Linked DNA regions of Homo sapiens: regions 2 and 3 are each linked to region 1. The links come from fine-mapping of genetic effects on gene expression. A gene starts in region 1. Each other region holds a variant in brackets. All regions are shown on one strand. Distances are between the middles of the regions.

Region 1 (4,250 bases):
TGACTCACATTGAGGAGAAAATGTGGTCACAATATGAGGAAACTGAAGATTAAAACAATTAGTGTTTTGAAAAGGGTTGTCTTAGGTGTAGGAAAATAATATAGAAAAAAATATATTCATGCTAGATTATATGAAATAGAATGCACGTAGTTAAATGCCTATTTAGTCATTAAAAAATTCCTGCTAGGATCTTGAAGAGATATATGCATACTCATGTTCACTGCAGCATTATTCACATTAGTCAAGAGGTGGAAGCAACCCAAAAATCCATCAACAGATGAATGCATAGGGAAAATGTGGTGCATATACAGTGGAATATAATGCAGTTTGATAAAAGAAGGAAATCCTGTAACATGCTGCAACGCAGATGAACCTCGAGGATATGACACCAAGTGAAATAAACATGTCACAAAAGGACAAATACTGTGTGATTCCACTCATATGAAGTGTCCAAAGTAGTCCAAATCAATGAAACATAAAGAATCATGATTGTCAAGGGCAGGGGGAGAGGAGAGAAATCGTTTAGTGGTGAAGAGTTTTAGTTTTGCACGATGAAAAACTTCTAGAAACTGTTGCACAACAATGTGAATATACTTAACACTATTGAATTGTATACTTAAAAATGGTTAAGATGGGGCTGGGCGCAATGGCTCACACCTGTAATCCCAGCACTTTGGGAGGCTGAGGTGGGTGGACCACCTGAGGTCAGGAGTTTGAAACTAGCCTGGCCAACATGGCAAAACCCTGTCTCTATTAAAAATACAAAATTAGCCGGGCATGGTGGTGCATGTCTGTAATCCCAGCTACTTGGGAGGCTGAGGCAGGAGAATCGCTTGAACCTGGGAGGTGGAGGCTGCAGTGAGCCGAGATTGTGCCATTGTACAATCTCTTGTCGCCTGGGCAACAAGAGCGAAACTCCGTCTCAAAAAAAAAAAAAAAAAAAAAAGTTAAGATGGTAAATTTAATGTTACATATTGTACCACAATAAAATAAAATCCTGCCAATACAACAATATTGCAGGACTAATACAGCAACCACCTTCCTTCTCAGAGGTTCTAAGGGGAAGTAAGAGCTACAAAACATTTTTATTCTATTAATTTAAAAATATCCTGTCCCATAAATCATATTTATAACAAACAAAAAGCTCTGGAGAATATAATGTTCAGAAGAGTGTACCCAGAAATAATTAGAATGTTAGATACAGCCCAATGAGTCAAATATTTAGTGCAAACAAGCTGCAGGATAACAATTATGGGGAGAATAAAAACTAACTTCTTCATTTCAAATGACAACAAAAAAAGGGAAATAACACTAAACTGCAGGGCCAGCAGTTACATAGATGGACAGATAGTGGTTAAATTTTGGACTAGGATCAAAACCAAGACTGCAGAATCCCATCATTATTTCGCTTAAAATACAGGTGATGTTTTAATTTGCTCGGGAGAGTTTATCATAGTGATCAAAAGGGGAGAACACCATCAGAAATCTCATCTAGTCCTAATAATACAAGTTTGTTTTAGCAAAGGTCTTAAAGGAATACATGAAAATATGCTAAAATAATGTACAGATGAAAACTTAAGAAACAGAAATTCAGTGCTTGTGCTTTGAAAGTCCATATAGCATATTATGTATCATTTCTTACAAAACACAGAAAATACATATTTCTGCTTAGAATTTATAAAACTTTTAAATTTTGAGCGGGGGGAGGAAAACATTCCACAATTGTCAAGTTGGAAGGTATTCATAAAGAAGATATAAATAATTTCCTAAAGTTCAGTGTTGGTTGAGCTTAAAGTTGTTCCATGGTAGTAGGGCTTTTTAATATTTTCAAAAGGAATCTGAGAGTTGTCATACCGAAAAAAGAAAAAAAAAAAGAGGGGGAAAAAAAAAACCCTACCACCACATATGAACATAAAAAAGAAGAGAACCCCAACCAATTGCACCACGACCGGATGGAAGAGCCCAGCTGACACAACCAAGACGAGTCTCAGTGTCTAGGGAAGCTTGGGGTTCTGCTCCTTTTACTTCAGGCGAACCTGAACTGTGAGTATTTCTTGATTTCGGCTACATAAATGAACCTTTATTTCAGCTAAAATTTGATTATCTGAACATTCAAAGTGAAACGTGATTCATGGTGATAAGGCTACTCTAATGTCAGCAGTTATTCGCTTTTAGAACTACTGAGTAAATTGCTTGAATGACACCTCTGCCTTGATTTCAAATGAGACTGTCTTTTTAGTTACTTTAAGTACTTTAAGACATTCAAGGTATTTAAGCTCCTACTGTCAATATAGTCACATTGTTGATACTGCATTTGGATACTGCCATCAAGATTTTGCAGATCTACTTGCATGAATTAAAAGTTATTTTCATATGCAATACATTTTATTTCTAATGTATTATAAATTATAACTTATTGACTTTAAGTTATGCTGTCTCCCTATTTTAAATTACTGTCTTTTCTTTATTATATTATTACTATTTTATAGTATTACCAGACCATATAACATTTAAGTTTGGTGTTTCAGAAGTAAATAAGGTGAATATTAGATAAGAGAGAAAGCAAAATATGCTTTAGTTCAAATAATAATTTTTTAAAATGTGTTTCTAGGGACACAGTTAAATTTGTAACAAAACCTAACACACTATTAATAGTATTATTTCCAAAGTAATATGTTTTCAATTTTCATTTTTTATACAGCAGTTAATGCAATTTTGAAGCATGCCCTGAATAGATTCAGTCATTATCAAGTCAAACTAAAAACGGTGAAAGGTTGCGACTATTACCAAATAGGTATGTATTTCAACATAGCAATGTGATATTTTCACAAACATACCCAAACTGCATTTTAAAAGCTTCTGCTCATCTGGAGTCACAGTGGAATCTGTTGGGTCCTGCCCTCTGGGTCCAGTACTCCTACATGAGCCAGTTGAAAAAAAACTGCAGGAGTAGGTGGTGGTGCGGGGGTACAATGCACTAATACTAGGTTTTTGAACTTGTGAATAGGATTTGCCAAGTAACAACATTTAAAAAACACTATCTACTATTACAAAACTATTGTGACCACTTCAATATAGCACATGGGTCACAAGTAATGCCCACTGGGAAATTAATCCCCTATGTAAACACAGTGGTTTGTTTCTTGTCTTCACAAGCAATTCTTAACATATCAAACAGGTAGTTTAAAAAATATCAGTAAATAGCCTTATATAGTGAATGACATTGTAATGTACTAACCAACTTCAAAGGAGAAAAAAAAACAGTCACCAAGTTTAAAACAGAATGTAATTGTGATTTTTAATTAAAAAAAAAATTTTTTTTTGAGACAGACTCTCGCTCTGTTGCCCAGGCTAGAGTACAGTGGCATGAACACAGCTCACTGCAGCCTCTGTCTCCCGGGTTCAAGCAATTCTCCAGCCTCAGCCTCCGGAGTAGCTGGGACTACAGGTGCGTGCCACCACGCCCTGCTAATTTTTTTTTTTTTTTTTGGTATTTTTTAGTAGAGGCAGGGTTTCGCTATGTTGGCCAGGCTGGTCTCGAATTCCTGGACTCCAGTGATTTGCCTGCCTCGGCCTCCCAAAGTGCTGGGATTACAGGCATGAACCACTGCTCCCGGCCAATTTTTTTTTTTTTTATGTTCTTTTTTTTTGAGACAAGGTCTTACTCCGTCACCCAGGCTGGAGTACAGTGGAGTGATCTAGGATCACTGCAACCTCTGCTTCCCAGGCTCAAGCGATCCTCCCACCTTAGCCTCTCGAGTAGCTGGGACTATAGGCGCACGTCACCATACCCGCTAATTTTTATACTTTTTGTAGAGACAGGGTTTCACCATCTTGCCCAGGCTGGTCTAGAACTCCTGAACTCAAGTGATCCTCCCACTTCAGCCTCCCAAAGTGCTGGGATCACAGGCATGAACCATGGCGCTCAGCTGTCAATTTGTGAATCAATAATTGTATGCTAGCTGTCTAATACATAGTTCTAAATGATGGCCACTATTATAACATAAACAAATGCACTGGCTTTGCTTTATGCTCTTTAAACTGAAGACTAAAGCAAAACCAGAAATGCTTACTGACAGATTTGTCCAACTATTACTTATTTTATTTGCAGATTAGAGCTGAGGCAAATGGTTTCAGGATATGTGCTTTGTGCTAACAGCTTTCTGGAGACATCTTGATTATGGCTATCGGGTCTAGAAGTTTAAAAAGATATGCTCTGTGGGTAGTGGCAATCATTCTGATGAATGATT
Region 2 (4,250 bases), 57 kb after region 1:
GTTTGTGAGTTTGAACCCTTCAACATACTATGGCTGGTGACTAAGGAGGGATGCTGTATTCCATGTATTAAAAAGGCAACCTACAGGAGTGGGTAATTATGATTGAATGTAACCAAAACAGAAAGCTGTGTTGCTCTAAATGTATAAGCAAGTGGCCCAGCACGTGCATGGCTCCTGTGATTTTTCATATTTACTTCTTTTTTTTTTTTTTTTGAGACGGAGTCTCGCTCTGTCGCCCAGGCTGGAGTGCAATGGCACGATCTCTGCTCAATGCAAGCTCCGCCTCCCGGGTTCATGCCATTCTCCTGCCTCAGCCTCCCGAGTAGCTGGGACTACAGGCTCCCGCCACCACGCCCGGCTAATTTTTGTATTTTTAGTAGAGACGGGGTTTCACTGTGTTAGCCAGGATGGTCTCCATCTCCTGACCTCGTGATCTACCCGCCTCGGCCTCCCAAAGTGCTGGGATTACAGGCATGAGCCACCGCGCCCGGCCCATATTTCCTTCTTATTTTGAGTCATTAGGTCTTTACAAACAACTTCTCCACTTAGAACAACAGCTGCCATTTGATTGGTAGGTCTCACACTGGCCTGAAGCAAATATATTTTTAAAAATGGTGCTTTTATTTCTCTTCCTTTTACTGTTCTTTACTTTTCCTTAATTATTGTGAGATAATTTGATATCACTAAAAGGCAAAATGAAGAACTAATGAGGCAGATTTGCCAAAACAAAAATAAAAAAACCCAAGTAGAATTCTACATGGTTCCTGAGCTATTAGATCCCCGCTTCCTGTACAAAAATCATCAGAAATGGGAAAGACAGCAGTACTGAAAATGTAAGCCTGTATTATAAACCCACGTTTTCATTTTATTTATTTATTTATTTTGAGACTGAGTTTCGCTCTTGTTGCCCAAGCTGGAGTGCAATAGCGCAATCTCGGCTCACTGCAACCTCCACCTCCTGGGTTCAAACGATTCTCCTGCGTCAGCCTTCCGAGTAGCTGGGACTACAGGTGCATGCCACCACGCCCAGCTAATTTTTGTATTTTTAGTAGAGAAGGAGTTTCACCATGTTGGCCAGGATGATCTCGATCTCCTGACCTTGTGATCTGTCTACCTTGGCCTCCCACAGTGCTGGGATTACAGGCGTGAGCCACCGTGCCTGGCCCCTATAAACCCATGTTAATAGATAAACTCATTGTTCGGTATTTTGCATTTCCAGTGACTATCGGTTCTACTAACACATACTAAAACAGAGATGTTCCCTGTAGCAAAGAGCAGCAGCATGCTCTTTATCAGTTTGTCATGTGATGTCTTTGTCATTTTCTTTTTTTATTTTCAACTTGACCTCTGGTGATTAGATATACAATACATACCTGGCTACAGCTTCACTGTACACAAAACCAGCGTCAGCTCGCTTTACGATTTCAAAACACAGATCTGCTCCATCCATACTGTAAAAAAATGTGAAAAAGAACATAAGAAAAGAGGAAATTCCAGGAAGACAACACTGAAAGTGAATACATTGTAACTAAGTTATTAGTTGATTTACTGCTAAGGGTTATGTTATTTAAATCTCCTTTCTTTCAATGAAATATAGACATAAATTATAAAGGGCATGACAGTCATCTTCACATTGAAAATCTGCAGGGAAAGAAACAGGAAGAGTAGGCTAACAGTAATATCAAATAACATTGAGTATATAAAATTGACTATAATTTTTCTTTAGGTTTTCACAAAAAGAAGCATCAGAAAACAGCAATGCTAGGGTTGTGTGCATATTTTTAAGTCAAATTCCAAAAATATTCAGTTATGTAGAATACAAGGATTTAAAAAACAATCTTGCTATTGTTATTACCACTAAATGGAAAATTCAGGCTATATACTGTGGAAGGAAAAAACAATGACATATATAAAATAAAATTTATTTTTGTTTACACTGCCATTCCCAAAGTTCATCGCTACAAACATATTGTAACACATAGATGTGTTGGTAACGCAATGTCACGATATTGTCTTAGAACTTACAGTAGTTTTCTATTTCTTACTAGATAAGTAAGGCCTCTTGTTGTCTTGGCCACACCTTGCCTCTTCTACCTACCTTGTCCACTGATGTTTCAAGAAAATCTTCCTCTCTAGGCAGAATGGTCTTATTATCACTCCCTGAGTACACCATTTTCTTTTTTACTTTTGTATATATTGCTTTTCATTTTCAAAACCTACCTTAATTCAAGGTTTCATTCCAATCCTACCTTCCCTGGAAGCCCCCTCAATGATTACCAGCCATATTAATGCCTTCCTTTGCTTTTCATTCTATAACAACTCTATATGGTCCATAACATTTAGCACATACAAACACCTCCCCCTCCCCCCACATACACCTATATATGTATACATGAATTTTGCCATATTATACATATTAATGAAACTATGCAAATATTAA[C/T]AGCTAACATTTTCATAATGCTTTAAGGCTTATAACATATTTTTAAATCCAGTATCTCATTCATTCATTCATTCATTCAGTAGTTCAGTTTCCCAATATACCTGCTGCAGATATTATACTGAGGAAATAGAAACTTCTGGAAGGGAAAGTAAAGGAACTAACATACTTCCTATTCATGAGGCATCATAGGAAGCAGTCCTTGTTATGCCTCCCTTCATACTTATAACCACCCCATGAGGTCAGCATCATTTTCAAATAATTTGTCTAAGTGAGTGGACAAGTATGTGATAGGGACAAGATCGAAATCTCTGTCTAGCTATGTCCTGTGCTCTTCCCATTGATTATAGCTATACCTACTGGGTGTGCAAGGAACAAATGCACATCTTTAAGCCCTACAACAGTTCCATGATAGTGTAAAGTCCTAAAGAACAAGAAAAAATATATTTATACTTTCAATGTACCCCTACCTAATACTCAGCAGAAGACACACTGTAGACACCTAATGAACAGTTGATTCTATTATTTGATTCTCGGTGTGGTTTTATATAAATGAATGAAAATACTTTCACATTTATACAGGCTCTAAAAACTTTACCAAGTTTCCATTTCACACCTAAGGAACATTTTCCAATGTCAAATAGGATTCTTCTCCAAAATAATGTTTATAGTTGCCTAGTCTACTATAAACATTATTATAATGGTCTAGTCTACTCCCTAGTATGGCAGCACTCATTTTCCACCATCAGAAATAAAGCCTGGATGAACGTGATCATGCATCTTGGTGAGCAACTCTGATTATCTGTATGGTAAAATTCCTACAAGCTGAGTTGCTAGGACAAGGGGTATATACAATAGCATTTTTTTTTTGAGACGGAGTCTTGCTCTGTCGCCCAGGCTGGAGTGCAGTGGTGCATCTCGGCTCACTGCGAGCTCCGCCTCCTGGGTTCATGCCATTCTCCTGCCCCAGCCTCCCAAGTAGCTGGCACTACAGGCGCCCGCCACCACGCCCGGCTAATTTTTTGTATTTGTTTTAGTAGAGACGGGGTTTCACCGTGTTAGCCAGGATAGTCTCGATCTCCTGACCTCGTGATCCGCCCGCCTTGGCCTCCCAAAGTGCTGGGATTACAGGCATGAGCCACTGCGCCCGGCCTACAATAACACTTTTGATACATACACAAGACCAGAAACAGTTTAACAATTTATACTCCCACTACCATGTGTGAATGTGTCCCTTGCTCTACTAGGATAATGATTATTTTTTTTCCATCTTTGCCAATTAGATAAGAGGAAAAAAGTCATTCATGATTGCTTTAATTTGCATTTCCTTGATTACTACAGAGAGTAAATATTTTTCATTTCTTTGTCCTGTGGGGAGAAAAGAAACGCTATTTTAAAAACTGGCTGTAGTTTAAGCTGGTTAGTTGATCTATGAGGACTAAAAAACATCTCATAGCGAAGGAATCAGTTTTGCTTAGGCGTTTTCCTTTGTAATTGTGATATATGAGGGTAAGCACGATTCAACTTAGATGAGAGAGGGGTTAGGAAAAGGAGAGAGCTAAACTGATTGCATAATGAAGCAATAAGAATTTAGGCTCTTTCTGCCATCTCTCCATGCTGCCATAATGGTGTGCATGAATGTCCTGGCTGATGCTATCCAGAGCATCAACAATACCAAAAAGAGGCAAACACCAGGTTCTTATTAGGTTGTGCTCCAAAGTTACTGTCCAGTTTCTAACTGTGATGATGAAGCATGGTTACATTGGTGAATTTGAAATCACTGATGATCATAGAGCTGGGAAAATTGTTGTGA
Region 3 (4,250 bases), 100 kb before region 1:
TTGTGACACAAAGTAAACAAAACAGTCTTAAAATATTTGGTATTACCTGGTATTGTAATCTTAATAGTCTCATATGATATGGATAAAAATGCATGAGATGAAGCTGGCTACATTTTATGAGGGTAGTTTAAAAACTTCTTTTGAAAGTGAGGTTTCAGTTCTATGGAAGTTTAATTATTACTTACCATGAAATGAGGTTGTGTTAAAATACGCTTTAGTTCCTTTGCGTCGTTATTCTCAGGGTAACATGAAATTTCTTCCAATACCTAAAAAATAAACAAGATATACAATAATACAAACATGACACAAGATTTACAAAATGTTAAATTCTTTTAAGTTAAAAATTATGAGTGGATTTTTATGGCAGGCAAAACAATTATTTTGAAAAACTTTTCATTTTATTCAAATGTTATTAATACATAGAAGAACAGTATTGATGGTAATAAAAATGAAGCAAATTGTTCTAAAAGTCTGTCAACTATAACCTAAAAGGTTATTGAAAAATATAAAGCAAAATGACAAGGCTGCAACATATATTTATTACAGATTTATGAAACTTAACGGAAGAGTATCTCTGAATATCCTTTTCCAAACTCACCATAAAAATCAATATGGACAAAAAGTTAATAAGAAGTTTTCTTTTATATTAACAGCACTGCCAATTCCCTTTAGAAATGTCAAAATGACACAGGCACAAATAGAAACGATTTCAAGAACAGAACTAATTAATTAGACTACTTAATTAAGAATACACAAGTAATTTTTCTTTAAGTAATGTAGAAAATGCAAAAATGCCTGCCGGATCAATGTTTTTCCCCATAGTCATCTGCCCACACAGAGAAAGTCATGCCTCTGCTAATGGCTCTTAGGGTTAAATGCCAGGGAGCCTAAGAGAACAATTTTTTAAAGCCTTATTTTCTCTTTCCACTCAAATTTTCTTCACTAATTAGTCATTAACATTTTTCTGCACAGGTAAAATTGATTGTTTTCAAATAAAATTGTTTTAAAAAGTTCTCCTTTACCACCAGGATGGAGTTTACCTGTGTAAGTTATTTATGGGACATGAACCCATGAAAAAGCCTCTGTTCTTTTTCTGAGTAAACACCTGCTGCTATTCTAACTGCATATGGCTGGATTCAGAGGTTTGCATTACACTCAACTGAATTCCAACCATTAAGCCAATAAAGGATTGCTTTGGCACAACTGGATGGCAGGATCATACCACCATCCATCCAGGAGGACTCTCACCTCAACCTGTGAAAACCATACAAAAGCTTCCTACTGGGGCAGGAGGGGGATGTTGTGAGGTCACATGGCCCGAGCCTTAGATTTTAGCATCATAACTAGAATGTTCTGTGCTACTCAACTACTGCCTCAGGGAAGAACAAACAAACAAGCAAAAATGACAGAGCTTTCTTATCCGAATACCCTGTTCATTAGAGTGCTGGTTATGCTGTTAATTCATATTGTTTCAAGATGATAAACCAATTATCCTTGGTGTATTTTATGCTCCGAGTTTCTCTATTAGTGAAATGAGAGGACAAAACCACATACTCTCTCTGGGTCCTTGCTCCTCTCCTAGTTTATTTTTAAATACAGAGGTGTGGTATTTCCACCTAAGCAGGGTTAGGGGGAAACCAGCAGGTTTTCACTGTCCAGTTGAGCCAAAGAATTGTCCCCAGAGTCTCTCTGCTTCTATCTGCGTATTGTGAAGACAGGGTGGTGATTCATGCCTCTATCAGCGATATCTTAATTCCCTTCTATGAGCCCTTGGTGGTGAAGTCAGAGACAACCCCTCCAAGCTAGTCCTGACCAAGTGGGCAGGCCGGGCAGCCTCCACTGCATGGGTCTCATTTCTCAGTGAACGTACACCATCTTCCAGTACAGACTTTCTGTCTAAAATCTGGTAGGGAAGGGATTATGTCCTTCATAGTCTTTCACATAGTAATTTCACTTTATAAGAAATAATTTTTCTAAAAGAAAAATGTTTATTTGCACAAAGACTGACATGATCAAAAAATGAAAAAAAAAAAAACCCATGTGTCTAACAATGGGAGAATTGCTAATATGTTATACTTTAATAACAGCAAAGAAAAATATTGCAGTCATTAGAAGTTATATTTGTAAAGATCAAGTAGAAACATGGAAATATGCTTATTATATAACGGTAGGTTAAAAAAGACACATTTTGATTACAACTATAAAAAAATTTATATGCAAATGGAGAGTGACTAGAAAACGATATATAAAAATGGAAACTACTGTGTTAGGGTGATGAGATTATGGATCTATTTTTATTTTCCAAACTTTCTGCAATGTTGTATTTCTATCATAAATAGGTTTTTAAAAGTTTGTGACAGATATAGCCACATACCTTGACAATTTACAAAAATGACTTCTTTGAACTCAGTATATTTAATTGCTACAGAAATTTAATTAACTTTCAAACATTACCACCTTCAAAAAGCAACTCAAATTTTTATAGCATGTCTATTTCCACCAAGTGTTGTAAAATAACTT[G/T]CTTTTTTAAAAAACAGAAAAAGAGAAGTAAAATTGATGGTAATGTATTCAAGTTTACATCGCAGAACCAGAACTAGAAATCTAGGCAATATTGCTGCAGAGATCTTTTTTCTTTTCTGTATGTTCAGTAATAAACTTAGAAATACTAAATCTGAATATAATGAGTCAAATTGTGACTCCAGGGAAACTGCCTCTTAATGTGCAACAGAAATGTCTTCAATAAAGGTGGCAAATATGATGATGCCAAATACTTCTATAAAATATATCACTTACCTCTTTGGCTCTCTGTACTGCATCGCTTGGAGGATTCCTGATTTGTGGTGAAGACTTTGTGTTAATTTTGTCATACAGCTAAAAAGCAAAGAAGAAAATCCAGTAAACACTCACAATTCTTTGCTAAAAATCAGAGCTTCATATTTATTATTTCACTAAACAATATTTTTCTTTTAAAAAGGCAGGCTGATGATTTCAGTGGGATCCTCTTGGTAATAACCTCTGAATTGTTCTGTGAAACTTGTCAGAATATGAGTCTTATGCATATCTTTTCAAAAAATCATCTTTAAATAGATGGACCAAAATTCTGTCAATGTGGCAATTTCCTTGTCATTTAAAATTCATCAATATTTCCTCAATCACAGTGTTTGTTTCCTCTGACAGAAGCAACTTTCAATAGCATGAATACAGAGTAAAATGAAAGAATGCTTTCTGGCCAAGGCACGTCTACACGGAGTAAAATGAAAGAATGCTTTCTGGCCAAGGCACGTCTGGAAGAATTTTCACAGAAACCTAAATCTTGGGAAAGGGCAAACCCAACTCCTTCTAGGAAGGAATGTTCTCACAAAGGCTTATGGTTGTTTTACTAGGGCTGTTCATTAACAGAATCAGTGCTGGTATCCTTCAGCAGGAAGTCAAGGACATAAACTTTTTTTCTTTTGACTCTGCCAATTCAGAGTGGAGAAGACACTGAAAAGAAAGCAAATATACGCTGGGAGCGATGGCTCATGCCTATAATGCCAGAACTTTGGGAGGCCAAGGTGGGCGGATCACCTGAGGTCAGGAGTTCAAGAACAGCCTGACCAACATGGCAAAACCCCGTCTCTACTAAAAATACAAAAAAAATTTGCCGGGCATAGTGGTGGGCGCCTGTAACCCCAACTACTCGGGAGGCTGAGGCAGGAGAATTGCTTGAACCTGAGAGGTGAAGGTTGCAGTGGGCCGAGATCACACCATTGCACTCCAGCCTGGGCGACAGAGCGAGATTCCGTCTCCAAAAAAAAAAAAAAAAAAAAAAAAGAAAGAAACTAAATATATTTCTAAAATTCCACAAACCTAAATGATCCAAAGTTCAGCTTTCTGAAGAACATACATTTAATTATTTTAGAAATACAATTAAAATATTAATTTCTACCTCAAATAAAGTGTTTCATAGTCAACAGTCTGCTTTGAAAAGTGAAAAGTTAAAGATGACCTCGGCTGTTGTGAACACTTTTATTTCCTAACTTCTCTAAAACAGGTGGGGATTTTCGTGGTCGGTTTTATTCTTTTTTTTTTCTTCACCTACTCTGTACACCAATGCTAGTTGAGAAGTCAAATACTGACTATAAACATTCTTCAGATTATAGTCAGATTTGCTTATACTAATGCAAGATAAATTTTTATGACTTATAAATATTTGGGCCACATCATACATAAAAATGCCTAACAAAAGCAATGTGAAGATAGAGCAGGGA

Which allele goes with the higher level. Positions count from the first base shown, and alleles are read on the strand shown. Sizes are in standard deviations (SD) of each study's normalised expression.
With allele C in place of T in region 2, the expression in spleen of the gene that starts at base 1,932 in region 1 is higher (small effect, 0.16 SD a copy in GTEx).
In carriers of allele G in region 3, the expression in tibial nerve of the gene that starts at base 1,932 in region 1 tends to be higher than with T alone (small effect, 0.11 SD a copy in GTEx).

The links. PIP is the estimated chance that this variant, and not a neighbour inherited with it, causes the effect. A credible set is the group of variants that fine-mapping cannot tell apart.
Region 2: its variant is the best candidate, but not a certain one, in a credible set for the expression of GPR34 in spleen (GTEx, PIP 0.74).
Region 3: its variant is the best candidate, but not a certain one, in a credible set for the expression of GPR34 in tibial nerve (GTEx, PIP 0.73).

Annotation. Positions count from the first base shown.
Region 1 is chrX:41,687,042-41,691,291 of GRCh38, forward strand. GPR34 (G protein-coupled receptor 34) reads left to right here and starts at 1,932. Exons shown (of 3, transcript NM_001097579.2): 1 at 1,932-2,043; 2 at 2,702-2,794. All of the region lies in intron 5 of CASK (calcium/calmodulin dependent serine protein kinase), which reads right to left.
Region 2 is chrX:41,744,151-41,748,400 of GRCh38, forward strand. CASK (calcium/calmodulin dependent serine protein kinase) reads right to left here. Exons shown (of 27, transcript NM_001367721.1): 4 at 1,374-1,451. It also overlaps the pseudogene RPS15AP39. Among named protein-coding and RNA genes, the nearest start is that of GPR82, 22 kb to the left of the region's middle. The variant C/T (reference allele first, on the strand shown) is at 2,441.
Region 3 is chrX:41,586,722-41,590,971 of GRCh38, forward strand. CASK (calcium/calmodulin dependent serine protein kinase) reads right to left here. Exons shown (of 27, transcript NM_001367721.1): 13 at 2,794-2,871; 14 at 186-266. Among named protein-coding and RNA genes, the nearest start is that of CASK-AS1, 71 kb to the left of the region's middle. The variant G/T (reference allele first, on the strand shown) is at 2,521.